Regions from separate parts of the Homo sapiens genome. Here regions 2, 3, 4, 5 and 6 are each linked to region 1. The links come from fine-mapping of genetic effects on gene expression. A gene starts in region 1. Each other region holds a variant in brackets. All regions are shown on one strand. Distances are from middle to middle. Region 1 holds the start of CHMP1A (charged multivesicular body protein 1A). Region 2 overlaps FANCA (FA complementation group A). Region 3 holds the start of SPATA2L (spermatogenesis associated 2 like). Region 4 overlaps DPEP1 (dipeptidase 1). Region 5 holds the start of VPS9D1-AS1 (VPS9D1 antisense RNA 1). Region 6 overlaps DEF8 (differentially expressed in FDCP 8 homolog).

Region 1 (5,082 bases):
CTCCAAAGTCCTCTTGTGCTCAGCTGTGGCCGGCTCCCATTTCTGCCCAGCAACCACTCATCTGCTTCTCTCTGTAAATGTGCCTTTTCTGGACATTCCATGGAAAGGGAACTGCAACATGAGTGGTCTTTCCTCTGGCTTGTCTCACTCAGTGTCCCACCTTTGGGACTCCTTCACGGTGTGGCAAGGGAGTCAGCAGCCTGCTCCTCACTGTCGCTCAGCCCGTCACTGCATGGAGAGCGTGCACACTTCATTTTATCTGCTGAAACTCTGTTCTCACTCTTGCTCTGCTGTTTTCCCTTCATGTCCACCTTCCTCCCCCACCCTCTGGTGTGACAGACACTGCTGGGGCCCTTCCAACAGGCGGTCCTCCTTCCCCCACTTCCGTTACTGGCAGAGGTCCTGCCCACTCCCATGCTTCACAGCTCCCTCCAGCCCCTGGTGAATTTGCACCATTGAATGAGTCCTGCAGAGGCTGGGCAGGCGAAGCCTTCCTGGGAAAGGTTTCCTTGCTAATATGAAGCAAGGAGCAATGCCTTTGCAGTAGATGCAGTCCTGCCTGCGTGTGGGGGGCTGTACACTCATCGGGGGCTGTGGACACTGAGAGTGGTCAAGAAGAGACACGCAAAGTCTTTGATGTCACTGTTGTGCTAACAAGCCAACCTGGAAGCTCCACCTCTGACCCTTCATTCGTGAGACATTAAATCCCTGTGTTAAAGCTGCGTTTAGTGAGCTTTTCTGTAACTTTCAGCTAAAAGCACCGTGACAGACAGGTAGCATTTTCCAAACTGCCACCCAAGGGTGATGCTATTCCTGCAGGGTTCCATCCTCCGGTGGGGGGTTGCGCCCTCCTGTGAGGGGTTCCACCCTCCAGTGGGAGGTTCCAAAGTTGGGAATTCAAATCCAAGTCTTTCTTCCAAGTCCAAGGCCCAGAGCCTCCTACTTTCAGCCCTTGATCCTACAAGCGTGTCAGTGTGAAGCAGTCCAGGCCCAGCTCCTCTGCCTAGCAGGCCAGTCATCCCCCTGACATTCTTTCTTGTCTGACCCGAGTGGTTCTCTCCTTATTATTTTTTTTTTTTTCTGAGACAGAGTCTCACTCTGTAGCCCAGGCTGGAGTGCAGTGGTGCGATCTCGCTCACCACTACTTCTGCCTCCCGGGTCCCGGTTCAAGGTTCGAGCAATTCTCCTGCCTCAGCCTCCTGAGTAGCTGGGATTACAGGCACATGCCACCACGCCCAGCTAATTTTTGTATTTTTAGTAGAGACAGGGTTTCACCACGTTGGCCAGGCTGGTCTTGAACTCCTGACCTTAAGTGATCCACACGCCTCGGCCTCCCAAAGTGCTGGGATTACAGGCGTGAGCCACTGCGCCCAGCCGAGTGGTTCATTCTTGTGATGAAACTTAAAACACCTCCTCCTGGCACAGGCCCCCAATCTCCTCGGACGGCAGGCTCTGCGGGTTCTCCCTGCCTGACCCTTCTGCAATTCCTACTGCAAGGCCTTGCTGGCTCCCACTGGGCCACAGCAATGGGTCTCTGACCGGGCCACCTCCCCTGCGAACTGGCTTCCCCTGTTGGTAGGCACAGACCTCATCATGCCGCCCTTGTTTTTTATTTTTAAATATTTATTTTTTGTAGAGACAGGGTCTCACTATGTTGCCCAAGCTGGTCTTGAACTCCTGGGCTCAAAAGATCCTCCTGCCTCGGCCAAATAACTGGGAGGACAGGTGTGAACTACCGCCCCAGGCAGCACCTCCGTTGTTTAAAATATTTAACGCTTCCAGCTCCACGTGGTAAAACTGATGGAAAACTTTGTATTCTAGCTTCTTCCTACTTTTGGGGCCTCATCTTCCCCACACACACCCAAAGGTCTGGCCACACTAGGCTGTTATAAAAGACACCTTTGTCGCACCCAGGTTCTACTCCTCGGTCACCCTCCGCAATGTACTTATCCCCACAGCCCTCGGAGAGCTACAGTCCAGCCTGGGACGGCCTCCCAATGCTCTGTTCCAGTGTGCGGAGGCTCAGGGATTCTCAGTGGCACCAAGATACCCAGCCCTCGAGGAGAACCTCAGGTGAGACACACGCACACTGCCCCAGCCCCTCGACCACCTGGTACGCACTTATCACTCGGGAACTGACCTACATTTTCATTAAACTTATGTTTTCAACTAAGATTTCTGGATATTTACCTCCTACATAAAGTTCCCAAAACAAACCAGTTTCATCTTTACGGCGCGTGCCTGCTACTAGTGTCCATCCGGTAGGGTCTTACAGTAGGCTCCTCACCCCAGCCCCAGATCCTCCAAGCCACTGACCTCGCTTCGCTCCCTCCCGCCGTCTCCTACCTTCCAGCGAAGCTGCCGGCGGCGGGTGCTTGGCTGTCCCGGCCCCCGGGTGGAGGCTGTCCACAGGCTTCTCCGACTCCCTGTCTGCCTGCCTGGCTTCCTGGGAATGCTTCTCCATCAACTTCTCCTTAGATTTTGGAACTGAATAGGTGGATCCCTTCTTTTGCTCCTCACCTGAAATATATGGATCATCCGTTAGACCCGGGACTTACCGAATGCAGGGCAGTGGGTCCCATCGTCTTCAGTCGCCTGCGTGGGTCCAGAATAAGCTGGCTTCAAGTCTCGAGTCTCCGCGTTTCCGTAACCGCCTCAGGCGGGAAACGCGCCGTCCGTGGCGGACTCGGCGGCAGGAACGGTTCGCACCGGGCCGAGCCTGGCGCCTGCGCTCACACCGCCCCGCCCAGCCCAGCCCCGCCCTGGGCCCGCGCCCAGGGGCGGAGACGCGGGGAGCCCAGCGCCTGCGCCTCCTTTACCTTTCCTGGGTTTCTCTTTGCTTTTGGAAAGGCCCATGGGTGAGCCCACCGCCCCCTCCGACGCAAGCCCGGGTCCCCACACCTCCGCGGCCGCGGAGCCGGGAGCGACTCACAAAAGGTCCTCGCGCCAGCGGCGTGCGTCACCATGGCGACCGCGCGCCGCGCAGCCGCGCCCCGCCCCTCTGGCGGGACCGGCCACCATCCTCTCGCGAGAGCATCCCGTGCGACCGGAAGTGGGGCGGCGACCCCGGAAGTCCCCGCCGGGTGCAGCTTGGTCGGTTCGATCGCCGCCGGGACCTGACACCGCCCGGAGTTGGCGTCCCTTCTCCCTCTCCGAGTGCTGCTCCTGTCATTGTGGCCATGGACGGTAAGAGGTCGCGGCCGTCCTCCGGGGACTCGCGCGCGGGGCGGGGCCGCTTCTCCCACTGGCGTGGGCTCCGCCCACCTGGGGCCGCGGGCAGGACTCAGGAGAGCTCGGGCCTCGACCGTCGATCCCCCGGGACCCCATCCCCAGGGCCTCGACCACCGACCTGGGACCCCTTTTCCCGGTCGTCGTCCCCCGATCCCCGACCCGGACCCCATCCCCAGGGCCTCGACCACCGACCTGGGACCCCTTTTCCCGAGCCTCGTCCCCCGATACCCGACCCGGAACCCCTTCCCCAGGGCCTAGACCACCAACCCGGGACCCCTTTTCCCGGGCCTCGACCCTCGATCCCCGACCCGGAACCCCTTCCCCAGGGCCTCTACCACCGACCCGGGACCCCTTCTCCCGGGCCTCGACCCCCGACCACCGACCGGGACCCTTCCCAGGCCCCCGACCCCCAACCCGAGATCCTTTACCCCGGGCCTCGACCCTCGACCCGGGACCCCTCCCCCCAGGCCTCGATCCCCGACCCCCGATTCGGGACCCCTTCCCCGGGGCCTCCATCCCCAAATCTCAACCCGGTATGCCTTCCCCGGGGCCTCGACCTCTGACCCCCAACCATGGACCCGGGACCTAGACTCCCGACCCAGGACCCCTTGCCCAGGGCCTGGACCCCCGACCACCGACCCAGGACCCTTTCCCCCGCCCCTGGCACTCCTCAGCGTCAGGCGCCCTTTCCCGCCAGCTCGGTAGGGGGGACTGTGCGATGCCTGTTCGGCCTTTCGGGACTTGGAATGTCGGGTCAGAGGGCACCAGAAAAAGTGACAGTTGCACCCCCTGCCCCAAACAGCATCACTGCAAATCAGAAGGACTCAGACAGAAAGCGCTCCCTGAGTGCCAGGCCCTGGTCACAGCAGCTCTTTGCGTCCATTCTCCATGTGGGGAAGCAGAGGTTTGAGCAGGAGCCAGCACAAGCGTTTCTGTGCTCAATGGGTCGCCCTAATTCTTACCTTCTACATCTGGGGCTAGCCGGCTGTGTGCTCAGGGATACCAAAGAACAGGAAGAATCTGGCAAAATGAAGTCCTATGTTTGCTGAAACATCGTTGGGCTGGTGTGATGGGCAGGCTTTTAAAAATACTTTTTGAAGGGCTGGGCGCGGTGGCTCACGCCTGTAATCCCAGCACTTTGGGAGGCCGAGGCCGGCGGATCGCAAGGTCAGGAGATCGAGACCATCCTGGCTAACACAGTGAAACCCCATCTCTACTAGAAATACAAAAATATTAGCCAGGCGTGGTGGCGGGTGCCTGTAGTCCCAGCTACTCGGGAGGCTGAGGCAGGAGAATGGCGTGAACCCGGGAGGCGGAGCTTGCAGTGAGCCGAGATCGCGCCACTTCACTCCAGCCTGGGCGACAGAGCGAGACTCCGTCTCAAAAAAAATTCTTTTAGTTAGAAGTGTGAAAAGCTATAGTACCACCGTGTCATCATCATGAAGGAAATGTGTAGAGATTTTCTGCCCTGAGAGAAGATGAAAGATAACATCTACCTCCCGCCACAAAAAATATGCTGGCCAGGCCGGGTGTGGTGGCTCAGGCCTGTAACCCCAGCACTCTGGGAGGCCGGGCGCGGTGGCTCACGGCTGTAATTCCAGCACTTTGGGAGGCCGGATGTGGTGGCTCACGCCTGTAACCCCAACACTTTGGGAGGCCGAGGTTGGTTGATCACCTGAGGTCAGGAGTTTGAGACCAGCCTGGCCAACATGGTGAAACCCCGTCTCTTCTAAAAATACAAAAATTAGCTGGGCCTGGTGGCGTGCACGTGTAATTCTAACTACTTGGGAGGCTGAGACAGGAGAATCGCTTAAACCTGGGAGGCAGAGGTTGCAGTGAGCCAAGATGGTG
Region 2 (5,000 bases), 91 kb before region 1:
ATTATTATTATTATTGGGACAGGGTCTTGCTCTGTCACCCAGGCTAGAGTACAGTGGTGCGATCATATCTCTCTGCAGCCTTGACTTCCTGGGCTCAAGCAATCCTGACAGCGTGCACCTGTGTGCGCCACCACACCCAGCTGATTTTTTGTAGAGACGGAGTTTTGCCATGTTGCCCAGGCTTGTCTCGAACTCCTGGGCCCAAGTGAACCACCCATCTCGGTCTCCAAAATTGTTGGATTACAGGCGTGAGCCACTGCACCTGATCTTTATTCTTCTTTAAAAAATACAGCCGGCCAGGCACGGTGGCTTATGCCTGTAATCCCAGCACTTTGGGAGGCTGAGGTGGCTAGATCACTTGAGGTCAGGGGCTCAAGACCAGTTTGGCCAACATGGTGAAACCCCATCTCTACTAAAAATACAAAACACTAGTCAAGCATGGTGGTGTGTACCTATAGTCCCAGCTACTCAGGAAGCTGACTTAGGAGAATCAGCTGAGCTCGAGAGTCAAGGCTGCCATAAGCCAAGACTGCACTGCCGCACTCCAGCCTGGGCAACCGGACTGAGACTGTCCTAACAACAACAACAACAACAAAAGACTTGTGAGGCAAAAATGATGTGTGGGGTAAAATGTTAGCCAGAGGTTAATCTGGGTGAAGGGCACATGAGTGTCCTCCTGCTGTTTTTTTTTGTTGTTGTTTTGTTTTGTTTTGTCTGTTTGTTTTTGAGACAGAGTCTTGCTCTGGAGTGCAGTGGCGGGATCTTGGCTCACTGCAGCCTCTACCTCCCGGGTTCAAACTATTCTCCTGCCTCTGCCTCCTGATTAGCTGGGATTACAGGCGCCTGCCACCACACCCAGCTAATTTTTGTATGGCTAATTTTGTTGGCCAGGCTGGTCTTGGACTCCTGACCTCAGGTAATCCATCTGTCTTGGCCTCCCAAAGTTCTGGGATTACAGGCGTGAGCCACCATACCTGGCTGTTTTTTTTTGTTTGTTTTTTTTTGAGACGGAGTCTCACTCTGTTGCCCAGTCTGAAGTGCAGTGGTGCGATCTGGGCTCACTGCAAGCTCCACCTCCCGGGTTCACGCCATTCTCCTGCCTCAGCCGCCTGAGTCGCTGGGACTACAGGCACCCGCCACCATGCCCAGCTAATTTTTTTGTATTTTTTAGTAGCGACAGGGTTTCACCATGTTAGCCAGGATGGTCTCCATCTCCTGACCTCGTGATCCTCCTGCCTTGGCCTCCCAAAGTGCTGGGATTACAGGCATGAGCCACCACGCCCAGCTGTTTTTTCTTAATTGATAAGTAGTTGATAAGTAGTACTGTAACTCCTGGGCTCAAGGAATCTGCCTGCCTCGGCCTCCCAAAGTGCTGGCATTACAGACGTGAGCCACAGCACCCGGCCTGCACTGTTCTATATTTGCAATTTCAAAGTGATTTCCAATTGAAATAGCTTGCCCCACTTGTTCCTTCTTGCCCTGTCCACTGTGGAGACCTCTCCCTGACCCCTGACGTCTGGGTCCCCGACTGGCTGGGCAGTGAGCCCCGAGGCCTTCCTGTGCCAGCATACTGCTCTTTTTCAGGAGATGGTAGCTGACCTGGAGCTGCAGCAAGACCTCATAGTGCCTCTCGGCCACACCCCTTCCCAGGAGCACTTCCTCTTTGAGATTTTCCGCAGACGGCTCCAGGCTCTGACAAGCGGGTGGAGCGTGGCTGCCAGCCTTCAGAGACAGAGGGAGCTGCTAATGTACAAACGGTAACACCTACTACCACCTGGGCAGGGCAGCACCACCTGGGCAGGGCAGCATCTCATGACGGTCCTAGAGGTTCTTTGTAGTGAGTTTGTTTCCCGTTACTTACTTGTCTGTGTGTCCCCACCCCAAGCCTGTCCATTTCTGTGGCACATGCCACGGAGAAGAGGATCTGGAGGGTTGAAAGTACTTTTGATTAAAACCTTCCAGCCAAGCGAGGTGGTTCATGCCTGTAATCCTAGCATTTTGGGAGGCTGAGGTGAGTGGATCACCTGAGGTCAGGAGTTTGAGACCAGCCTGACCAACATGGCGAAACGCCATGTCTACTAAAAATACAAAAAAAATACAAAAAAATTTAGCTAGGTGTGGTGGCGGGCACCTGTAATCCCAGCTACTCGGGAGACTGAGGCAGGAGAGTGGTGTGAACCTGGGAGGCAGAGGTTTCAGTGAGCCGAGATCACGCCATTGCACACCAGCCTGGGCAACAGAGCGAGACTCTGTCTCAACAACAACAACAAAACCTTCCTGCTCAGACGTGGAGGGACGTCGCAGAAGGAGCTCTTGTGAAAGTAGGGAAAAGTGTTCAGAAATGCCCACGGCGGCTGCATTTATAAGAAGCAGCGTGGAGTCATTTAATTTTACAGTCATAGGGAATTGCTTCACTAGACAGACTGGTGCGTCATCCACTTGGTTATCGTGTAACTGTCAGAAGTTGTTGGTTATTATGTAACTGTTAAAAGTTGTTTGTTTGGTAACACATTTTGAATGCAGTGGGCCAAACACAGTATAGGGGAGGTGGGCTCAGAGTGCAGGCTTTGGATGGGACAGAGGGACACAGGCCAAGGCTCTGGTTCCAACAGTGGCCCTGGGTTTCAGGGTGGTGGTTGCTGCTCTGAGAGTCTGAGCCCTTGGGAAGGAGCAGAGTGTACGCTGTGCTGTCGCCACCAATACAGCCCCTTCTTTCCAGGATCCTCCTCCGCCTGCCTTCGTCTGTCCTCTGCGGCAGCAGCTTCCAGGCAGAACAGCCCATCACTGCCAGATGCGAGCAGTTCTTCCACTTGGTCAACTCTGAGATGGTAGGTGCCCCGTGTGC[A/G]CGTGTCCGTCCGATCTGTCAGTGCCTGTGGCGCTAACAGCAGCTCTTGCAGCCTCCATGCGTGTACTGACCGTGTGAATTACTGAGGAAAGGGTTCAAAGTCAAATAGGGAACAGTGTCTGGAATGCCATGTGAGGGAGGACCCCACCCACAGCCAGGACGGCGACCAGCACATCACCAAACCAGCTGTAGGTTGCCTTCTCCCAAGTTTGAGTTCCTTTAGTTTCCCTCAAGTTTTAATGATTTTGACACATGGAATCGTACAGACCATTTTGTGTGCCACGCACCTCGGTTCATTTATTTCTAATCTCAACATGCTTCATGTGTAAAAAAAGCCTTGTGGTGATCTGACTACCGCTGTTGCCTGCCAGGCAGCCCAGTTATCTTCCATTTTAGACACTGCCCAGCGTGAGTTGCAGGGTGATCTTAACCAGCAGGCTGGGTGCGGTGGCTCACGCCCGTAATCCCAGCACTCTGGAAAGGTGGGGGATCACTTGAGCCCAGGAGTTCGAGACCAGCCTGGGCAACATGACAAAACCCTGTTTCTACAAAAAATAGAAAAATTAGCTGGGTATGGTGGTGCACGCCTGTACTCCCACCTACTTGAGAGGCTGGGTCAGGAGGAGTAATTGAGCCCAGGAGGCAGAGTTGCACTGAGCCAAGATCCCACCACTACACTCCAGCCTGGGTGACAGAGCGAAACTCTTGTCTCAAATAAAAAGAAGTGACACTCGCTGTGGGGACGGGCAGCGTAGGGACCCAGTTGGTCAGAGCTGGGGAGACGGATACCAGCCCCTCCCACTCTACAGAGAGCAGCTTCTGCTCCCGAAGGCCTTTTTCTTGTTTTTGAAGATGCACAAATGTGAGAGATGGAATTCAGGTTCCATGCCAGCTGTGCAGCATTTTATATTTTTATTTATTTATTTATTTATTTATTTTTTGAGACAGAGTCTTGCTCTGTCGCCCAGGCTGGAGTGCAGCAGTGAAATCTTGGCTCACCCTGCAACCTCCGCCTCCCAGGTTCAAGCGATTCTCCTGCCTCAGCCTCCTGAGTAGCTGGGACTACAGGTGCCTGCCGCCATGACCGGCTAAGTTTTGTATTTTTAGTAGAGATGACGTTTTACCATGTTGGTCAGTCTGGTCTTGAACTCCTGACCTCGTGATCCACCCGCCTTGGCCTCCCAAAGTGCTGGGATTACAGGTGTGAGCCCGGCCTTGTGCAGCACTTCAAAATGTGACAAGGAAAGCAGAGGACGTGAGACTAGCAAAAGCTTTCAGAAAATCACTATGGTCTCCTTTGAATTCTTATGAATGGCTGTTTTTCAGAAAGCTCTCAGTTGGCACGTGACAGCCGACAGACAGGAAAACACCATAGACAGCACTTGGTTAGTGAAGGGACCAGAGGATGGTTGGCCCTTGGTATTAGTGTCGTCCTCACCACAGTTCTACGCTCCGGGTGCGTCCCCTTCCCTGCGGCTGCTTGTGCCTCCCTGGCTTCTTCCTGGAGCCTACAAGACTGTTTGGGCCAGAGCTGGTGGGCTGCAGGATCTGGCCGCCCAGGGAAGCCGTTAAGTTTCAGGACAGCACAGCCAGGGCGCCAGGCCCGGTCAGCCCAGGAGCACCATCCATGGTGGCCACGCCAAGCCTTAGCGAGTGTTTTTCTCAAAACTGAATCCACAGCAGCCACTCTGCATGTTGGTCTCGCCTCTCTTCCTGTGGGCTTTTCTTACCTGCCTTGAACTCTTTTGCAGAGAAACTTCTGCTCCCACGGAGGTGCCCTGACACAGGACATCACTGCCCACTTCTTCAGGGTGAGATGCTCCCTCAGCCCCTCTCGTGGCCTTCTCAGAACGCCGTGGGTGGATCCTCCTGTCAGCTTCCTGTGAGTTCCTTCACTCTACTAGTTGTGGGTCCTCACAAACCGCTGACCTCCTGCTGCGTTCTCTCCTGCAGGGCCTCCTGAACGCCTGTCTGCGGAGCAGAGACCCCTCCCTGATGGTCGACTTCATACTGGCCAAGTGCCAGACGAAATGCCCCTTAATTTTGACCTCTGCTCTGGTGGGTCAGCTGTCTTGTTTGGTGTTTTGTTTTGGGGATGAGTGGGAGACTCCACAGCTGCCTCTGGCATCTCTGCAGCACGTCTCCATCACGGGTG
Region 3 (5,082 bases), 42 kb before region 1:
TGGCACTGGGCACCAAGAGTGAGTTCAGTAAACAGTAAGTAAAAGAGCTCCCTGTCCAGAGGTGGCCACCTAGATAACTCAGGGAGATCCACCGACTGCATCACGATTTTTTTTTCCAGACATTCTCGCTCTGTCACCCAGGCTGGAGTGCAGTGGCACGATCTTAGCTCACTGCAACCGCAACCTCTGCCTCCCAGGTTCAAGTAATTCTCCTGCCTCAGCCTCCCAAGTAGCTGGGCTTACAGACATGTGCCACCACGCCCGGCTAACTTTCGTATTTTTAATAGAGACGGGGTTTCACCATGTTGGCCAGGCTGGTCTTGAACTCCTGACTTCAGGTGATCCGCCCGCCTCGGCCTCTCAAAGTGCTGGGATTACAGGCGTGAGCCACCGCACCCGGTCATGATCACTATTTCTAAGATGCCAGCAGGGAACTTCCAGGTAAAAAATCTAAGAAAAAGGGGGGACCTCGCCGCCCAGGCCCAGGGAAAGTTTCAACAAACTTGGGCCTTGGTTTTGGTGGCCTGGAGAGATGAGGGACACAGACGTGAAGTAGCAAAGCCTGCCCAAAGCGGGGGTGTGGGGTAGGGGTGGGTTTCGGCTGGGACCTCCAAGGGTCTCCCTCATCCTCCTCTACTTCTGGGCAATGCGAGAAAGTGGCTGTAGCACAGAACAGAGGAACCCGAGCGAAGAAAACGTCCCCGGGAAGTCGTGGCCCAGATTTAGCCTGGGTGGATCCGCAGCCCAGGTCAGCTTTTAGCCTAGAGAGGGGGGCGGCTTCGCCCTGCCTCAGAGACCCGCCCAGACGATGCTCTCAAGGGCTGCAGATGGCAAGTGCAGGAGGCCGGGAAGCGGAGCCAGCATAAACAGAATCTGAGGTCCCCGCATCCACCTGAGGCTGCTGTTTCAGACGAGGCTGAAAGGCTTGTCCTTCCGCCCACCTTCCGTGCCGCGGGCCCCTCCCTCAAGGGGATGGCCCCGCCCCACAGGGGAGGCCCGCCCCCGGATCCGGCCAATCCCCGCCAGGTAATGCAGGTGGCCCCGCCCCGCAGGAAAGGCTCTTCCCAGGATCCAGCCAATCCCCGCCAGGTAATGCCGGTGGCCCCACCCCCCAGGGGACGAGCCCGCGCACCTGCTTCCCCGCGGCCGGGTCGCCTGGGGCTGGGTCCCTGTCTCGTGGGGAGGAGCGGCCCAGGCACAACGTTCCCTGAGCGCCTGCCATGAGCCCGCAGCCCTCGGCCCAGCGGCGTCGTGAACGATACCGGTCCCGCGAGGAGACGGGCGACGCGGTGACAGGAGGCTCTCGGGGTGCCTCGCGCAGGGGCTCGGCCGGGCTGACACCTCCTCCTCCCCTTTCACCAGGCCCCGCCCCTCCTAAATTATTCGGAGGCGGGGCCTGCGCCAAGCCCCGCCCCGCCCCCAGCGTCACGGCCGCGGACCCCGGGCGGAGCCGACTCCCGGCGGAAGCGCGCGGCGCGCGGGGAGGCCCGAACTGATCCGCGGCGGCCGGAGACCGCTGGGGACAGACAGGTAGCGCCGTCACCCGCGGGATCCGCAGCTCCATCTGCCGGGCGAAGGGGCTCTGGTCGGGAGAGGGCTCAGCGGGCGGAAGCGCGTCTCTAGAGAAGGGTGCGGTCGATAACCGGGGGCGCCCCTGGAAGGCCGAGGTACCCAGGCTGGAGGGAGGGGCTGGAGGTGCGGGGGCGCTCAACTGGAGGGGCCTGGATCGCTGGGTGGGCGGGCAGCTGATGGGGCCGAGGTCTCCAGCGTAGGGGGTGCCGAAGATACCGGGGGCGCCCAGCCGCTGGGGGCGGGGTCTCCAGGCTCGAGGGGTCCTGGGGACGCTGGGTGAGGGTTCGGGGAGAGCGCGGCGGGCTGGGCGCGGCCTTAGGTCCCTGACCCCCCCGACCCCCGTCCGCCGCAGGATGGGCAGCAGCTCGCTGTCCGAGGACTACCGCCAGTGCCTGGAGCGCGAGCTGCGACGGGGCCGCGCGGGCGTGTGCGGGGACCCCTCGCTGCGCGCGGTGCTCTGGCAGATCCTGGTGGAGGACTTCGACCTGCACGGGGCGCTGCAGGACGACGCGCTGGCTCTGCTCACCGACGGGCTGTGGGGCCGCGCCGACCTGGCGCCCGCGCTACGCGGCCTGGCTCGCGCCTTCGAGCTTCTGGAGCTCGCCGCGGTGCACCTGTACCTGCTGCCCTGGAGGAAGGAGTTCACCACCATCAAGGTAGGCGCCAGGCCAGGAGGAGCGCGCCCCTCGTCCTGGCCTGCGGGTCGCGGGGCCGCCGACCATGGGGGACCACGCCTTTCGAGAGAGAGGGGCTTCAAGTGTCCTCAGTGCCTGGTGGGCTCCTCAAGGCTCCGAGCGCTGAGGGGTCGTGGGCGTGTGGGGGCACCCACTCCTAGGGCTGAGAACATGGGGTGGGCGAGGGCAGGCTTGGGTGCTGCCTACGGGGTCCTGCCCTGAGAGCTTGCGTCAGTGTCTTCCCTAAGAGGCCTCGCGGCCCCAGTTGCCATGGAAATCTTAGGACGGGGGCACAGAAGGGACTTGAGTTCCCATGGTCATCCTAATTCCTCCAGGTTATGGGCCAATCCCATTTGCAGAGGAGGCCGCCGAGGCTGGGAGGACTGCAGATGGGTGCATCCCTGTGAAGTCTCAGGGCTGGGCTCAGACCTAGTGAACTCCACGGCCT[G/A]GGGCGGGAGGCTGTGCCCAGGGCTGGCCTGGCCTCTCCAGGTGAGCTCCTGGCGGCAGGAGGGGGCAGGGCCGCCGGGAGCTCTGAGCTAATTCGGAAGAGTAGGAAGCCGATGACGTCACTGGGCACGTGGGCGAGCTACGCCTCCGCCGGTTGCCATGGCAGCGGCAGTCTCTCCGCGGCTCCCCGGGGACACCTGCTGGTCGGAGGCGCCAGGACTTTCATTCATGAGAGAGGACGGACAGGCCCGCCCTTGAGGCCTCCCAGGGGGCGGGGCGGGGGAATAACCGGCTTCAGTGCCGGACAGCCCTGGTTTGGACTTAGTTCTGCTGCTTCCTGGCCGCGAGGACTTGGCCAAATTAGCTAATCTCTGTCAGCCCCTTTCCTCCTGAGACAGCGACACGGGAACAGTCCAGTTCATGGGGCCAGAGGAATGAATCAAAGCCCCGAGCTCAGTGCTGCAGGCACTGGGCGCTCCACACGTGGGCCGTGTCCAGGCATTAGATGCTAGGAGTCCCGGAGTTAGGGAATTTGAGAGTCAGGAGACGCTCGCAGTGATTGTCCTGAGCTCCTTTAGTTCTTCACCTAAGTGTAGGCTAGAAAGCACTCAGCCAGGCCGGGCGCGGTGGCTCACGCCTGTAATCCCAGCTCTTTGGGAGGCCGAGGTGGGCAGATCACGAGGTCAGGAGATTGACACCAGCCTAACCAACATGGTGAAACCCCGTCTCTATTAAAAAATACAAAAATGAGCTGGGTGTGGTGGCACGCGCCTGTAATCCCAGCTACTCAGGAGGCTGAGGGAGGAGAATCACTTGAACCTGGGAGGTGGAGGTTGTAGTGAGCAGAGATCGAGCCACTGCACTCCATCCTGGTGACAGAGTGAGACTCCGTCTCAAAAAAAAAAAAAAAAGAGCACTCACCCTTCTACCGTCCCACGGCTGTCAGCCCAGTGCATGGACAGCCTCTGGAGAGCGCTGAAAACAGACGTGTCACCCCCATGGTGGAATACTACACAGCAGGGGGAATGAACGTTACAGCTTCTGTCCTTGTCTGCAAGACTGTAGTGGAAAAAAACAAAGTTCAGAACAACACGTTTAAGAGGCTACCTGTCTAGCTTTGGTTAGAGACCTTACAAAGAGGTGAAAAAAAAGGGGGGACTACCTCATACGAGGAGCAAACGAAATCTGTATTTGGGTTTGCAAAACAAACACCTGGGCAAGTACATTCAAAACTAATTAGATGAGGCCATCTCCAGGGGTGAAGGGAGCGGTGGGACAGAAGACAGTGGAATTTCTCAGTACAGGGGCTCTTCATTTTGTTCTGATTTGTGAGCTAGGTTAATGTATTCATTGTTTTTTCCATTAAATTTAAGAAATTCGGCCAGGTGCGGTGGCTCACACCTGTAATCCCAGCACTTCGGGAGGCCAAGGTGGGTGGATCATGAGGTCAAGGGATCAAGACCTTCCTGGTCAACATGGTGAAACCCCGTCTCTACTAAATATACAAAAATTAGTGGGGCGTGGTGGTGCGCACCTGTAATCCCAGCTACTCAGGAGGCTGAGGCAGGAAGATCGCTTGAACCCGGGAGGAGGAGGTTGTAGTGAGCCGAGATCGTGCCACTGTACTCCAGACAGAGCGAGACTCTGTCTCAAAAAAGAAAAAAAAAAAAAAATTCTAGGCCGGGCACAGTGGCTCACGCTTGTAATCCCAGCACTTTGGGAGCTCAAGGCAGGCGGATCACTTGAGGTCAGGAGTTTGAGACCAGCATGGCCAACATGGTGAAACCCTGTCTCTACTAAAAATATGAAAATTAGCCGGGTGTGGTGGTGGGCGCCTGTAGTCCCAGCTACCCGGGAGGCTGAGGCAGGGGAACTTGCTTGAACCTGGGACGCAGAGGCTGCAGTGAGCTGAGATGGAGCCACTGCACTCCAGCCTGGATGACAGAGCAAGACTCTGTCTCAAAAAAAAAAAAAAAAAAAAAAAAAAAAAGAAATCATCATGTTTGGGCCTGGCCCAAGCTGGCTAAGCCTAGTCTCTGGGGTTGGGTCTGAGCATCAGAAGCTGCCAAGGCCTGAGCCAACAGATCCCGGACCCACTGTACCCTAGGGTCTGGCCTATGGGAGGGTGGGCAGTCACTGACCTGGCCGCTCCCTTGCAGACCTTCTCTGGGGGCTACGTGCACGTGCTGAAGGGTGTGCTCTCAGACGACCTCCTCCTGAAGAGCTTCCAGAAGATGGGCTACGTACGCAGAGACAGCCATCGGCTCATGGTGACCGCCCTGCCCCCCGCCTGCCAGCTGGTGCAGGTGGCCCTGGGCTGCTTCGCCCTCCGGCTGGAGTGTGAGATCCTGGGTGAGGTGCTGGCCCAGCTGGGCACCAGTGTGCTGCC
Region 4 (5,082 bases), 41 kb after region 1:
CAAGGAGGGTCTGCGTGTGGACCGCACTGAGCTGGAGACCAGGCTGGCTTTGGAATTCTGAGGTTGCGGCGGGAGGGGGGCATACTCAGTGGGTTCAAGCAGGCGGGGGGAGGCCAGGCCTATCCCGGACCCCACCCAAGGCAGGGTGGAGACCTAGGGCTGCTGCTGGGCTAGTCACAGGGGCCCTTGGAGTCTGACATTTTCAAGCAGCCAATGATGGGCAGCAGTGGGAGGAACAGTGGGGGCTGCAGAGAGGGGAGGGGACGCAGGGGGCTGCAGAGAGGGGAGTGGGGGGCACAGGGCGCTGCAGGGAGGGGGTGCAGGGGGCTGCAGGGAGGGGAGCAGGGGGCACAGCAGGCTGCAGGGAGGGGGTGAAGGGAGTGCAGGGGGCTGCAGGGAGGGGAGCAGGGGGCAAAAGGGGTGCAGGGAGGGGAGCAGGGGGCTGCAGGGAGCTACAGGGAGGGGAGCAGAGGGAGCAGGGGGCTGCAGGGAGGGGAGCGGGGGGAGCAGGGGGACCAGGGGGCTGCAGGGAGGGGAGCGGGGGGAGCAGGGGGAAAGCGGGCTGCAGAGAGGGGAGCAGGGGGGCAGGGAGCTGCAGGGAGGGGAGCAGGGGGGCAGGGGGCTGCAGGGAGGGGAGCAGGGGGGCAGGGGGCTGCAGGGAGGGGAGCAGGGGGGCAGGGGGCTGCAGGGAGGGGAGCAGGGGGGGCAGGGGGCTGCAGGGAGGGGAGCAGGGGGGGCAGGGGGCTGCAGGGAGGGGAGCGGGGGGGCAGGGAGCTGCAGGGAGGGGAGCGGGGGGGCAGGGGGCTGCAGGGAGGGGAGCGGGGGGGCAGGGAGCTGCAGGGAGGGGAGTGGGGGGGCAGGGGGCTGCAGGGAGGGAGCAGGGAGGGCAGGGGGGCTGCAGGGAGGGGAGCGGGGGGGCAGGGAGCTGCAGGGAGGGGAGCGGGGGGGCAGGGGGCTGCAGGGAGGGGAGCAGGGGGGGCAGGGAGCTGCAGGGAGGGGAGCAGGGGGGCAGGGAGCTGCAGGGAGGGGAGCAGGGGGGGCAGGGGGCTGCAGGGAGGGGAGCAGGGGGGCAGGGAGCTGCAGGGAGGGGAGCGGGGGGGGCAGGGGGCTGCAGGGAGGGGAGCGGGGGGGCAGGGGGGCTGCAGGGAGGGGAGCAGGGGGGCAGGGAGCTGCAGGGAGGGAGCAGGGAGGGCAACCCTCCGGAAGCCAAAGGTAGAGGGTGCTGGTGGGATGTGCGTACGTAAAGAGCAAAATAAAACCAGTTTTGTGCAGGGTTCCTACCGTTCTGGTGAAAATAAAATAAATATTAATCTATAAGTTACAAAATGCGAATTGTGCAACTTTGCCCGGGGAACAGTGCAGCAATCACTTAAGCTCAGGAGTCTGAGACCAGCCGGGGCAACACAAGGAGACCTCGTCTCTACAGACATAAAGAAACTAGCCAGGCTGGTGTGTGCCTGCAGTCACAGTTACTTGGGAAGCTGAGGTGGGAAGGTTGTTGAGCCTCGGAGCTTGAGGCTGCACTCCCACCTGGGCAACATAGTGAGACCCTGTCTCAAAACTAAATGCATAAATAAATAATGTAGGCCAGACCTGGTGGTTTATGCCTGTGATCCCAGCACTTTGGGTGGCCAAGGCGGGAGGATCGCTTGAGGCCAGGAGTTTGAGACCAGCCTGGGAAACATAGGGAGACCCCCATCTCTACAAAAAATATAAAAATTAGCCAAGCGTGGTGGCACACACTTGTGGTCTTGGCTACATAGCAGACCGAGGCAGGAAGATGGCTTGAGTCCAGGAGGTTTAAGCTACAGTGAGCCGTGATCCTACCACTGCACTCCAGCCCGGGTGACAGAGCAAGACCTTGTCAAGATGGATAAACAAACTAATAAATTAATTAAAATAAAAATGTGAATTGTACAATTTTGTTGATTCTGTATGAGTTAAATCCTATTCTATTTGCATTTAAGCCAAGTATTACACAATATGAAGATAAATGGTAAATACATGCTAATAATTTAAAATTTTAATTTTTCTTGACTTAGAATGATGATTTTTTATTTTT[AT/T]TTTTTTATATTTTTTGAGACTGAGTCTCGCTCTGTCGCCCAGGATGGAGTGCAGGGGCACAATCTCAGCTCACTGCAACCTCCGTCTCCCAGGTTCAAGTGATTCTTGTGCCTCAGCCTCCCGAGTAGCTGGGATTACAGGTGCATGCCACCACACACAGCTAATTTTTGTATTTTTAGTAGAGATGGGGTTTCACCATGTTGGCCAGGCTAGTCTCAAACTCCTGACCTCAAATGATCTGCCCGTCTTGGCCTCCCACAGCGCTGGGATTACAGGTGTGAGCCACTGCGCCCGGCCTCCCAAAGTGCTGGGATTACAGGTGTGAGCCACCGTGCCCAACCTCCCAAAGTGCTGGGATTACAGGTGTGAGCCGCCGCGCCCGGCCTCCCAAAGTGCTGGGATTACAGGTGTGAGCCGCCGCGCCCGGCCTCCCAAAGTGCTGGGATTACAGGTGTGAGCCGCCGCGCCCGGCCGCCTTCCAGCATTTCTGGCACAGACCGGCACAGGTGTGGGCTCCTGTCCTTTGCATGTTGTTGGCTTTCTGTTGACCAGATGGCCTGGAGACCTCCTGGCGTGGATGCTTCCACCTCATTCTCTGTAACATGTGCGCAAGCCTCAGAGCTCATGTTAGCTGAGCAATTCTTCCATGCAGGCACCGTGCTGAGGGAGCTCCTGTGGCCTCGTGAGGCAGGAGCGCTTTTCCCCTCACCTCTCAGGGCCCTGGGCCTTGGTGCCTGCCTACCTCTCCCACCTCCACCCAGCTCAGCCGTGAGTCTTCATGCAGTGTCCTCAGGGCATCACATGAGAGCCCCAAGCACCCCATCTCTCTGCCACTCCCTCTCCCTTGTTCTAGCTCCACCCTGTCTTGATTCCTGGCAATTCTAATAAGAGAGAATTGTCCCCAACCCTGGCCAAGCAATTCCCTGACATGTAATGACCTGTGCTACCCTCACCTTGCTCGGGTGGGGCCAGACCTTCACTGCAGTCCCATCACCCCACCCCTCCCTTCCCCTTCTGCTCCAGGGCCTGCCCAGGACCTCCAGCCTCCCGCCCCATTCTCTGCCAGACTCCATCATCCCCTCTGGAGCCGTCACGCCGCTCGGTAAAACCTGCCCGCTTCCTACCCGCTTCCTGGCCGCTCTCTGCCTGCTTCCCGGCCGCTTCCTGCCCACTTCCTGCCTGCTTCCTGGCCACTTCCTGTCCGCTTCCTGGCCACTTCCTGGCCGCTTTCTGCCTGCTTCCTGCCCACTTCCTGCCTGCTTCCTGGCCGCTTCCTGGTCGCTCTCTGCCTGCTTCCCAGCCACTTCCTGCCAGCGTGCGTTTGCACTGCCCTTCGCGGAGTGTGCTGAGGGGAGAAGGCCCAGCCGTCCCAATCTGCGCTACTTTGAATTCCTGATCACAAACTTCAAGGAACCTCTTTAAGCCACCCGGGAATCCTGCTGCAGGTCCCAGTGCCAGAACCAGAAGCATCTGTGCCATCTGGGAACATTCTGGTGGAGCAATCGCCCTGTCCTCGAGGTCGGCCATACACGCTGGGTCTTCACCACCCCGGGGATGCAGATGCCTCCTGGCGACCCCCTCCTCCATCCAAGGACCCCTCCCGGCACAGCCCCGAGCACACCCGCTGTCTCCCCTCCTTTCCGCCCGTCTGTCCGATCCTCTCACAGCTGGCTGGGCCATACTGCTCTGTGAAACTGTGCCCGGTCAGCCCCGGAGTGGGTGACCCAGGACCCGCTGGCTGTGTCCTTCCAGGGCACAGGTCCCAGCCTCTCCTGTTTCGTCGACACTGGCTACCTGTGTGGGCTTGTCTGTTTCTGGGCTCTGAGCCCTATCCCCACAGCACTGACTCCCCCACCCACCTGAACCCCCAGCCCAGCCCCCGAAGCCCCACGGACCCAGCCTCCTGCTGCGCACCCCAGCTGGAGTTCAGGGAGCATTTTAAATTCACTTTTTGTGTTTTTTTTTTGAGATGAAGTCTTGCTCTGTCACCCAGGCTGGAGTGCAGTGGTGTGATCTCAGCTCACTGAAACCTCTGCCTCCCAGGTTCAAGTAATTCTCCTGCCTGGGGACACGACACGTAGGGGACGCCTGAGCCCTGCGCCTTTGGGCCTCAGTATCTGTGAAATGGGCCTGTGAAAGGGGTGGACACTCAGAGGCCAGGGCGGGCCTTGGTGCTTGGTCTCCCTCCACACAGCCCACTCCTCTCCAATTCACACCCCACCAGCCGGCCAGGACCCCGGGGCCCCCGTGTTGACCGCCTGCCTGGCTGCTGCAGCTCCTGCCCTCTGGTGGCCAAATCCCAACGTGCCTCCGTGGGGCCGGTTCCCGGCTCCAGTTCACCGGGGCCTCGCGGGGTCCTGCAAGGCGGGGTCCTGGGGGCTCACTTCACCCAAGAACCAGCTGCTCCTCCCTCAGGGTGGGCTCTGCCTGTGGGCTCTGAAGACCTGGGAAGGCTGAGCAGGTGCTCGGAGCCACCACTGCTTCCATGGGTGTCCTGCCCTTTAACCCACGCCCTCACCCCTGAGAGCAAGGCTGCTGTTACCCCTGTCTCCTACTCTTGGAAACTGAGGTAGAGAAGACAGGTCCAGCCCCCTGGCTCATGGGAGATGGAGCCAGGATGTACGCACAGGACACAGGTCCAGAGACTCCAGAGCTGCGTGTAGACCAGCACCACTGCCCTGCCAGGCCCGCCTGCCCGCTCTGTACCCAGTGGGAGCTGGGAGCCTCAGCCCGACCTGTGAGGCCACCCCTCAGGGGCGGCTCTGAGAGGCCGCTTTGGGGCTCAGTGTCCGTCCACCGCAGCCTACGTCCCCCTGAAGCTGCAAGCAGGGACTGAGGGACCCTCCCCGTCTGCTCCTGGCCTCCGACTGGAGATTTGTCAAAGCTGACCTTTTGTCGACAAGGAGACTGAGGCCCAGCGGGAGGTATTTTAGAGACACTTCCACGTTTGGAGGCCCTAGATGCCCCCTTCCACCCATGACACCCACTGAGCTTCTCCATGGGGTCAGACGCCAATCA
Region 5 (5,082 bases), 55 kb before region 1:
CCCCACAGTGCTGGGATTACAGGCATGAGCCACTGCGCCTGGCCTGACAGCGAATGTTTTTAAAATGAGTCCCAGAATGGGAATATCCCCTGGCCGGACACAAGCAAATGCAGGCGGCCTGGTGGCTCACGCCTGTAATCCCAGCACTGTAGGAGGCCGAGGCGAGCAGATCACCTGAGGTCAGGAGTTCCTGACCAGCCTGGCCAACATGGTAAAACCCCGTCTTTACTAAAAATACAAAAATTAGCTGGCCGTGGTGGTGTGCACCTGTAATCCCAGCTACTCAGGAGGCTGAGTCCAGGAGAATCGCTTGATCCTGGAAGGTGGAGGTTGCAGTGAGCGAAGATTGTGCCACTGCACTCCAGCCTGGGCAACAAGAGTGAAACTCCGTCTCAAAAAAAATTAGGCATAGTGGTGTGCCCCTGTAGTCCCAACTACTAGGGAGGCTGAGGTGGGAGGCTCACTTGAGCCTGACAGGTTGAGGGTGCAGTGAGCCGTGATTGTGCCAGTGCACTCCAGCTTGGGCAACAAAATGAGACTCTGTCTAAAAAAAAAAAAAATGACCGGGCGCGGTGGCTCACGCCTGTAATCCCAGCACTTTGGGAGGCCGAGGTGGGTGGATCATGAGGTCAGGAGATCGAGACCATCCTGGCCAACAAGGTGAAACCCCATCTCTACTAAAAATACAAAAAATTAGCTGGGCGTGGTGGCGGGCACCTATAGTCCCAGCTACTCAGGAGGCTGAGGCAGGAGAATCCCTTGAACCCAGGAGGCAGAGGTTGCAGTGAGTTGAGATTGCGCCACTGCATTCCAGCCTGGGCGACAGAGCAAGACTCCATCTCAAAAAAAAAAAAAAAAAAATTTAGCTGGGAACAAGGATGAGTTATATATCTATATATATGTAGAAATCCATACATACAAAACTGAGCAGACAAGTTTATAACAGCAGAGCAGATATAGCTGAAGAGCAAATTCATGTATTGGAAAAAAGGTCAAAAGATAGCTAGAATGAATTACAGAAACAAAAAATAAAGACAGAAAACAAGAGATGGAAAGCCTAACGTGTTCGTTGGAGTTCCAGAAAGAAAATGGGAGGGAGGCCAAGGCAGGCAGATCACAAGGTCAGGAGTTCAAGACCAGCCTGGCTAACATGGTGAAACCCCATCTCTACTAAAAATACAAAACTTAGCTGGGCATGGTGGCGCGTGCCTGTAACCCCAGCTACTTGGGAGGCTGAGGCAGGAGAATCGCTTGAACCCAGGAGGTGGAGGTTGCAGTGAGCCAAGATCGTGCCACTGCACTCCAGCCTAGCAACAGAGCGAGACTCCGGCTCAAAAAAAAAGAAGAAAGAAAATGGGAGAGAGGCATTATTAGAAGTTAGAATGGCAGACAGTTGTCTAGAACTGATGAAAGATACAAAGACACAAATGCAAAAAGCCCAGTGACTCCCAAGTGGGAGAGACGAGAAGGGTCCACTCCTCCTGCCCCTGCTCTGGCGGGGCCTGGCTTCCCAGTCCCCTTGTTTCTGCAATGTGGCTTCAGGGCAGGGTGGCCAGGCGTCAGGCTCTGACTTTCCTCCTTGTCCTCCATTGTCCCTGACAGTGGGAAGGTACGAGGGAACAAAGCTTTCAAGGTGGAGTGGCTGTTGGGAACTGTATAAAGGAGACAGGACACTTCTTCCTTTCATGGGTCACAGACTAATCTGGCTGTTTGACCCACATAGTGCCTTTAAAGCAGGGGTGTCCAATCTTTTGCCTTCCCTGGGCCACACTGGAAGAATTGTCTTGGGCCACACATAAAATACGCTAACACTAACAACAGCCGATGAGCTTAAAAAAAAAAATTGCAAGGCTGGGCGCAGTGGCTCCCGCCTGTAATCCCAGCACTTTGGAAGGCCAAGGCGGGCAGATTACCTGAGGTCAGGAGTTCGAGATCAGCCTGGCCAACATGATGAAACCCCATCTCTACTAAAAAATACAAAAATTAGCTGGGCGTGGTGTCACATGCCTGTAATCCCAGCTACTCGGGAGGCTGAGGCAGGAGAATCACTTGAACCCAGGAGGCGGAGGTTGCAGTGAGTTGAGATTGTGTCACTGCACTCCAGCCTGGGCGACAGAATGAGACTGACTCAAAAAAAAAAATTTTGCAAAAAAACCTCAGTGATTTTTTGAGACAGAGTCTCTATCACCCAGGCTGGAGCACAGGCACATGCCACCACACCCGGCTAATTTTTTGTATTTTTAATAGAGACGGGGTTTCACCATGTTAGCCAGGATGGTCTCAATCTCCTGACCTCATTATCCGCCTGCCTCATCCTCCCAAAGTGCTGGGATTACAGGCGTGAGCCACCGTGCCCAGCCCTCAGTGATGTTTTAAGAAAGTTTAGGAATTTGTGTTGGGCCACATTCGAAGTCATACAGCCTCGGATTGTTGCACAAGCTTGCTTTAACAAGATTCATACTGTTGCCAAACACATATAACGGATCTCCATAGAAGTCCAGTGGTCCAGCTTCTCTTGAAAAACCAAAAGTCCGGCCGGGCGCGGTAGCTCACGCCTGTAATCCCAGTACTTTGGGAGGCCGAGGCGGGTGGATCACGAGGTCAGGAGATCAAGACCATCCTGGTTAAT[G/A]CGGTGAAACCCCGTCTCTACTAAAAATACAAAAAATTAGCCGGGCATAGTGGCGGGCACCTGTAGTCCCAGCTACTCAGGAGGCTGAGGCAGGAGAATGGCATGAACCCGGGAGGCGGAGTTTGCAGTGAGCCGAGATTGCGCCACTGCGCTCCAGCCTGGGCGACAGAGCGAGACTCCGTCTCAAAAAAAAAAAGAAAAAAAGAAAAACCAAAAGTCCTGGCAATACCAAAACCTGTGTTTTCTTTCTTTTTGTTATTTTTTGTTTTGGTTTTGTTTTTTTGAGACAGAGTCTCACTCTATCACCCCAGCTGGAGTGCAGTGGCCAGATCTCGGCTCACTGCATCACCTCCCGGGATCAAGCTATTCTGCCTCAGCCTCCCGAGTAGCTGGGATTACAAGTGTGCACCATGCCCAGCTAATTTTTGTATTTTTAGTAGAGACAGAGTTTCACCATGTTGGCCAGGCTGGTCTCGAACTCCTGACCTCAGGTGATCCGCCCGGCCTTAGCCTCCTAAAGTGCTGGCATTAGAGGCGGGAGCCACTGCACCTGGCCAAAACCTGTGTTTTGGAAGGGCAGGCAAGAAGGGGCAGATGTTGCAGCCCACCCCAGATGGCTCCCCTCCTCTTTCTCCTCACCTCCTGGCCTCAGAGCAATCCGGGAGGATGAGAGAGACTCCTCTGGTGTCCAGACACCACTGGGCTTCCTGGGGTCTAGACAGCAGCTTGTCACATTTCCAGAGAGCTGACGCCACTGGAGGAGGCCTCCCTGCAGAATCAGAAGCTGAAGGCTGCGTATGAGGCCCGAATGGCGCGGCTAGACCCCAGCCAGGCCATGCAGAAGACATCCCTGGTGAGTGGGGGCTAGGGAGGGCCTGGGGGTGCGTGGGCGCGGGGCAGAGGGGAGTCGGCCTTACTCCCTCCTCCCCCCCCAGACCCTCTCTCTACAGCGGCAGATGATGGAGAACCTAGTGATTGCCAAAGCCCGGGAGGAGACAGCAGCCTTTCTGACCGCCCTGGTGGTCCCCGAGGGGAAACTCAGTGTGGCCTTGAGCCAAGGGCAGAGAAGGGGGCAGCGAGGGGAGCGGAGGTTCCGGGGTCGGGGTACAGGGCCGAGGGGCTCCCCGCTTTGCAGAGGCAGGGTCTCAGGGGAAGGCCCGGCCGCCGTCCCCCATGTTCTCTGGCCCGGCCCTCCTGGCTTGAGCGCAGGCTGCCTTCTGCCCCAGAAGCCTTACCTGGGGACAGCCCCTCACCGAGAGGAGGTCCCTGGGACGTCCCGGCCTCTCCGGGTGTGGGACGGGGTTGGGAACCGAGGGCCCGCTCAGATCCCACGCTCGGCCCCTTGACTCTGCACCCAGCTCCAGAGAAAGATGGAGGAGCGCCGGCTGCGGCTCCAGGAGGCCGCCAACAGGTGGGACTCCTGCCCGCCCCTGGGGCCGCTGCGGGGAGGGCCTGGCCCCGGCACCCACCGCGTGCCTTTCTCCCCAGGAGGTTTTGCAGCCAAGTCGCCCTGACCCCGGAGGAACGGGAGCAGCGGGCCCTTTACGCCGCCATCCTGGAGTACGAACAGGACCATGTGCGTCCCCCACGGGCCCAGGCTTTGTAGGAGGAGCCCAGCGAGGGGGGCGGGGTCAGAGCCGCCTGGGTGGGCCCCCGTGGGGGGCGGAGCCAGAGGCTGTGGGGGGCAGTGAGGGGGCGGGGCCAGAGGCCCGTGGGAGGGCCCGGTGAGGGGGCGGGGCCAGGGCTGCGTGGGGCGGGGCAGAGCGAGGAGGCGAGGTCAGGGGTCGCGTGGGAGGGTCCCAGCGAGGAGGGAGGGTCCCTGCGAGGAGGGAGGGTCCCAGCGAGGGTGCAGGCCCAGGGTTCGCCTAAGGTTTCCCTCGGGTGTGGGTGGGGGCGGGGGCGGGTCGCGGGGCCTGCTGGCGCTGGGTCTCCTGCACCCCAGGACGGGCTCCCACAGTCTCTAGGGGTCGGCACTGGTGGGAGATGAGGCGCGTCCGGTCGTGGCGGACCCACCGTGCTTTCCTTCAAGGCCCCCTGTCCCGTAGGACTGGCCGAAGCACTGGAAGGCCAAGCTCAAGAGGAATCCGGGGGACCTGTCACTCGTGACCAGCCTGGTCTCACACCTGCTCAGGTAGCTGGGCCTTCAGGCCCCACAGAGCCCCTGCGCACCGGCCTTGGGCACCTCTGCCTGGTGCCAGGTGCCGGAGAGGGGCTGGACTGACACAGGGAGCCTGTGCCCGGCCACGTGGACACTGCAGCTCCCTTTGCGCTGAGGGCGTTTCCTCGGCTTCTCCAACCTCCCCAGCGGGGGCGGGGGGCAGACTTTCCAACATTCACTGTCAGGAGGTAATGCAAGTCGCTTCTCTGAAACCGGGCATAGCGCGGCACCTGTGGATGCCACGGAGAGGCCGAGGCTGGCCGCGTTCTCACGTCCTCTTCTCCCGCAGCCTCCC
Region 6 (5,082 bases), 300 kb before region 1:
GCAGCTCCACCCTTTCAATATCATGAGTTATCCTGAAGGGTTTCTCTCTCTCTGTTTTTGTTGTTGTTGTTTTTGTACTTTTTAAGAGACAGGGTCTTGCTCTTTTGCCCAGGCTGGAGTGTAGTCGTGCAATCAGAGCTCACTGCAGCCTCAGACTCCAGGGCCCAAGCGATCCTCCCATCTTTGCACTGGAAAACCCTAGGATTACAGGCGTGAGCCACCGCACTCAGTCAGACTATTTTCTAATCTGTTACATTCCGTTTCCAAACCTTCAGCTGGACTGCCCTTAGCGACTCCTCACTCCCACCACCTACCCCAGCCCAATCAGAGTCATCCCCCTCTTCTCAGTCACCTCCCTCTCAGTCCAAGCTCAGTCAGCAGCCACAGTAACCTATTAAAGCTCAAGTATGTCCAGCACCCACTTGTGGCCCCCACTGCACTTAAAGAAAAGCCCCAGCCACCTCTGAGCCCACCTCCCCCAGAAACAGAACTGCAGCCCCACCTGGCTCTCTGCTCCTCCTTATATCAACCACAGGGCTGCCCCCACCGGAACATTCCTCCAGACACAGAGCTGCAGCCACACCTGGCTCTCTGCTCCTCCTTATATCAACCACAGCACTGTCCCCACCGGAACAGTCCTCCAGACACAAAGCTGCAGCCACACCTGGCTCTCTGCTCCTCCTTAAGGCACTGGACACATCAACCACAGGGCTGCCCCCACCAGAACATTCCTCCAGACATATTGTCTTGGCTTGCTCCCTGACCTTCAAGTTTTTGCTTAAAAGTCACGTGACGCCGGCTGGGCGTGGTGGCTCACGCCTGTAATCCCAGCACTTTGGGAGGCCGAGGTGGACGGAACACAAGATCAGGAGATAGAGACCATCCTGGCTAACACGGTGAAACCCCGTCTCTACTAAAAAAAATACAAAAAATTAGCCGGGCGTGGTGGCGGGCACCTGTAGTCCCAGCTACTCAGGAGGCTGAGGCAGGAGAACGGTGTGAACCCGGGAGGTGGAGCTTGCAGTGAGCTGAGATTGCACCACTGCACTCCAGCCTGGGCGATTGAGTGAGACTCCGTCTCAAAAACAAAACCAAACCAAAAACAAACAAAAACAAAAAACAAAGTCACGTGATGCCTTTACATTCTGCCCTAAAGTCACATTCACTCCACCCTAACACGTGCTAGGTCCTTTCCCTTTTTCTTCATTGTACAAACTAGACACACCATGTAATTCACTAGTTTAATTTCTCATCCAGAACAGCCCTGTCCAATGTAGACAGTACAACGAGGAAATGCATATTTAGTTAATTTAACTTTGACTGGCCATGTTTGGCTAGTGGCCACCACACTGGATAGCTCACATCTGAATGTGAGCCCAGCGGAGGCAGGAACTTTGGTCTCTCTCATTCCTCACTCCTCGTCTGGGTCTCGGCCCACCTGTGCAGGTGTACCAGGTCTGAATGAGCCCCCAGATGATGGTGTTACACTTGTCACAGGTCTGCTTGACGCTCTTGCTCTTCTCCTTGTAAAAGCGGTGCTCAAGGAGCACTCGGATGTTTGGCTCATCCTCATTGGGGTCCTGCAGAGGGTGAGTCAGGGAGGGGGTCACAGGTGAGCTGGGCTGAAGTTCCTTTCCCTTCGCACAAGCCCCTCAACTTATTTCTTCCAGGCACCATTTAGGGCAGAGATTGTGAGTTTCAGCACAATGCCATGTCCCTTTTCTCCCTTTCACAGTAAACAATGATCAGCTGGACAAGGACCGCCAAGGTCACATGCTACCTTTCCCAGCATCCCTTGCGACCTTTCCCAGCATCCCTTGCAGCGAGGGGCTGTGTGGGATTGCACCGGGCCATGGGCATGTGAGCGGGAGCGACCCGGCCTCTCTGCCCCTCCTGCTTTTTGCCGGTTAGGTGCAGGGCAATGGAAAAGGAGGCCCTCCCCAACACCATTAGCTGTCATAGAGGCCCCAGACCACCTATGGGATTTTTACGTGAGGAAACGAACACATCTTCTCTAAGCCACTATGTTTTGGGGTTTTTTTTTCTTACCACCAATTTACCTGTTTCCTCATGAATATTCTACTTTCTACATTCCCAGGGATACCTGAATCAGCACAGGGGACACAGGGCAGCCAGGCCAAAGCACACACAGACCCAAGGACTGCATCAGGAACATCTGTGGCCTGGGACCCACCACCTTCTTTTGTTGTCACCTTCAAGACACCACCCGTCCTTGTCCATGTGGCTCACTCAGGGAGGAACTTACTTAGCCCACCCGCTTGCTTCAGTGGGTGGGCACACAGCCCAGAACTAGCCAATCGGCCACCGTCATTGGGTCAGTGGGCGGGCACACAGCCCAGAACTAGCCAATCGGCCACTGTCATTGGGTCAGGGGTGGGCACATGACCCAGAACTGGCCAGTCAGCCACTGTCATCCGGTCAGGACTGGCCAATGAAAGTCAGGCCTGAGGTTCCTGCTATAACCACTGTGAAAAGGCAGCTGTCATCTGCACAGGGAGGCTCAGCTCCTGGAAAGCAAGATGTGGTTGCCGGGACCGTCTCTGCCACCGCACAGGGAAGGCCTGCCTGAGGCTGGATCAGACACAGGAAGTCGAGTTGGAAGAGAGCAAGATTCCTGACACTGGAGGATCTTCCAGTCACCAAGCAAATACATTTTTCTTTTTGGCTTAAGCTACTCAGGGTTGAGTTTCTGTTCCTTGCAACAGGAGGGTCTAGGCTAATAGGGAAACCTCCCGCAGTGGGGTGAGGGCCCGTCTTCCACCCTGCCTGTCTCGTGCCCTTCTACCTCAGCCCCTGAGGCCGAGAGAGAGACCACCGCCTGAGAGAGAGCCAGAGGCTGGCAGGGTCCTCCTAGTTCCACAGTTCTGGCCTCGGCCCCAGGCTGCCCCACGGCGGGGCGGCCCCACACCCACCTTCAGCTCCTGGAGCTTCAGCCGGAGGTGGATGAGTCGCACCACGGCATCCTTCTGCTTCTCCGACTGCTCGGGCAGCTCCAGAATCACCTGCTTGCACTCCTCGATCGCCTGCCGCAGCTGCTGGACGTCAGAGGCCAGGAACAGACCCTGCCCAGGTTGGGGGC[G/A]GGGGCAGTCAAAGGCCCATCCTGCAGGAGCTCCCTGTTAAGGCCCATCCGCCGAGACAGGCCCAGAGCAGACCCCGACACCCCTCACCCAGAGAAGGAAACTCAACCCAGAGGGCACCGAGGACTTGCTCCAGGGCAGGAAAGGTGGCAGCACGGTCAAGGTCCACCCGGTGCTGCGTGCTCCTAGCCTGACCTGCCTGCCCACAGACCTCTGAAAACCTAATGTTTGAAAGTTGCTTTTCAAAAGACAACTTCCTTCTTTGAGAAATCCAGATGCTTTTTTGTTATGTCACTTCACTTCCTTCTGAAGAGCTTCCTCTTGGAGGAAAGCTAGGGAAAGGACATTTGCTGTCATGAAGGACAGTAAGTGGCCTCGAGCTTGACTGCCAAGCCCAAGCACATGCCGAGAGCCAGCCCCAGCACTTCTGGTTGCTTTCGCCACATAGCGACCAGGGGGCTCACGGCCCAGCAAGGCCCCAGACTCAGAACACTCTGGGGATCCCGGGGAAGACAGGATCAGGTCTCAGTGCTGGGGAGCCTGGACCCCGCCCTCAGGAGCCATCCTCCTCCTCCAGGCTGCTGGGCTCTGAGACCCAGGCAAAGGGGAGGTGGCACCCTCCCCTCCCCCTTGCAGCTCAGCCTGTGGCCCAAAGGAAGTGCTCAAAATGTTGTAATATACAAAACAAGCTGAGTGCAGTGGGTCACACCTATAATGCTAGCACTTTGGGAGGCCGAGGTGGGTGGATCACTTGAGCTCAGGAGCTTTAGACTAGCCTGGGCAACAGAGCGAGACCCCGTGTCTATAAAAAAAAAATGAAAAATTATCTGAGCATTGTAGTGCACACCTGTAGTCTCAGCTAATCAGGAAGCTGAGGTGGGAGGATCGCTTGGGCTCAGGAGGTCGAGGCTGCAGTGAGCCATGATTGCGCCACTGCACTTCACAGCGGGGGCAACAGAGCGAGACCTTATCTCAAGAAAAAGGAAAAAAAATAAGATACGAAACAAATATATGAAGTCTCTCCCTCTTTTTTTTTTTTTCAGACGGAGTCTCTGTCGCCCAGGCTGGAGTGCAGCGGCACGATCTCGGCTCACTGCAACCTCCACCTCCCGGGTTCAAGCGATTCTCCTGCCTCAGCCTCCTGAGTAGCTGGGACTACAGGGGCGCTCCACTATGCCCGGCTAAATTTTTTTTTGTATTTTTAGTAGAGACGGGGTTTCAGCATGTTGGTCAGGCTGGTCTCGAACTCCTGACCTCACGATCCGCCCGCCTCGGCCTCCCAAAGTGCTGGATTACAGGCGTGAGCCACCACGTCTGGCCCAAATCCTTTCAAAGTTACATTTGAATGTTGCCGTAATGTTTCCCTCAAAAGTTGGAGATGGTTTGCATAAAAATAAAAGGTTTTCAAACTTTTTTTTTCTTTGAGACGGAGTCTCACTCTGTCACCCAGGCTGGAGTGCAGTGGCGCAGTCTCGGCTCACTGCAAACTCTGCCTCCTAGGTTCACATCATTCTCCTACCTCAGCCTCCCGAGTAGCTGGGACTACAGGCATGTGCCACCACGCCCGGCTGATTTTTTGCATTTTTTAGTAGAGACGGGGTTTCACCGTGTTAGCCAGGATGGTCTCCATCTCCTGACCTCGTGATCCGCCCGCCTCAGCCTCCCAAAGTGCTGGGATTACAGGCGTGAGCCACCGCGCCCGGCCTCAAACTTTTTTAAAAAAATCATTATATCCTCCCCCTTTTCTTCTTCAACACAAGGCTTCCATGGAACAAAACACGGAACAAACAAGAGTGGCCCTGTAATACCGACTGGTCAGTACGAGGCAGACAAGGGGCTTCCCCTTGCCTCCCACACCCTGACTCTCGGCAAGTGTACAGGACCTCAAGGACCCCAGAGGGAATCTATTCTCTGCACATTTGCTTCATGAAGACATGGAGCTCAGGGGACAGAAGCAGCCCCAGGTTCATGAACCCCAATCCCA

What was found.
Region 2: its variant is fine-mapped to the expression of CHMP1A in sun-exposed skin (GTEx, PIP 0.98).
Region 3: its variant is fine-mapped to the expression of CHMP1A in fibroblasts (GTEx, PIP above 0.99).
Region 4: its variant is fine-mapped to the expression of CHMP1A in whole blood (TOPMed, PIP above 0.99).
Region 5: its variant is fine-mapped to the expression of CHMP1A in visceral fat (GTEx, PIP above 0.99).
Region 6: its variant is fine-mapped to the expression of CHMP1A in thyroid (GTEx, PIP 0.95).

What each region holds. Positions count from the first base shown.
Region 1 is chr16:89,655,686-89,660,767 of GRCh38, reverse strand. It overlaps CHMP1A (charged multivesicular body protein 1A), which reads left to right and starts at 3,060. Exons shown (of 7, transcript NM_002768.5): 1 at 3,060-3,186. The coding sequence starts at 3,180. SPATA33 (spermatogenesis associated 33) reads right to left here and starts at 2,932. Exons shown (of 3, transcript NM_001271907.2): 1 at 2,820-2,932; 2 at 2,347-2,520. The coding sequence starts at 2,856. RefSeq lists an enhancer at 2,779-2,948 and silencers at 2,664-3,053, 3,274-3,333.
Region 2 is chr16:89,746,487-89,751,486 of GRCh38, reverse strand. It overlaps FANCA (FA complementation group A), which reads left to right. Exons shown (of 43, transcript NM_000135.4): 32 at 1,585-1,757; 33 at 2,720-2,828; 34 at 4,597-4,656; 35 at 4,799-4,903. Among named protein-coding and RNA genes, the nearest start is that of ZNF276, 27 kb to the right of the region's middle. RefSeq lists an enhancer at 4,617-4,786. The variant A/G (reference allele first, on the strand shown) is at 2,846.
Region 3 is chr16:89,698,076-89,703,157 of GRCh38, reverse strand. SPATA2L (spermatogenesis associated 2 like) reads left to right here and starts at 1,453. Exons shown (of 3, transcript NM_152339.4): 1 at 1,453-1,530; 2 at 1,925-2,228; 3 at 4,853-5,082. The coding sequence starts at 1,926. RefSeq lists silencers at 858-1,577, 1,748-1,847 and an enhancer at 2,850-3,715. The variant G/A (reference allele first, on the strand shown) is at 2,695.
Region 4 is chr16:89,615,021-89,620,102 of GRCh38, reverse strand. All of the region lies in intron 1 of DPEP1 (dipeptidase 1), which reads right to left. Among named protein-coding and RNA genes, the nearest start is that of DPEP1, 3.9 kb to the right of the region's middle. RefSeq lists enhancers at 3,890-4,592, 4,593-5,082. The variant AT/T (reference allele first, on the strand shown) is at 2,063.
Region 5 is chr16:89,711,005-89,716,086 of GRCh38, reverse strand. It overlaps VPS9D1 (VPS9 domain containing 1), which reads left to right. Exons shown (of 15, transcript NM_004913.3): 5 at 3,371-3,482; 6 at 3,565-3,627; 7 at 3,988-4,040; 8 at 4,118-4,205; 9 at 4,675-4,760; 10 at 5,077-5,082. VPS9D1-AS1 (VPS9D1 antisense RNA 1) reads right to left here and starts at 4,231. Exons shown (of 4, transcript NR_036480.1): 1 at 3,865-4,231; 2 at 3,269-3,398. RefSeq lists enhancers at 3,240-3,339, 4,837-5,082 and a silencer at 3,980-4,399. The variant G/A (reference allele first, on the strand shown) is at 2,630.
Region 6 is chr16:89,955,512-89,960,593 of GRCh38, reverse strand. DEF8 (differentially expressed in FDCP 8 homolog) reads right to left here. Exons shown (of 13, transcript NM_001242818.2): 5 at 2,934-3,083; 6 at 1,439-1,580. Among named protein-coding and RNA genes, the nearest start is that of SNORA119, 4.7 kb to the right of the region's middle. The variant G/A (reference allele first, on the strand shown) is at 3,101.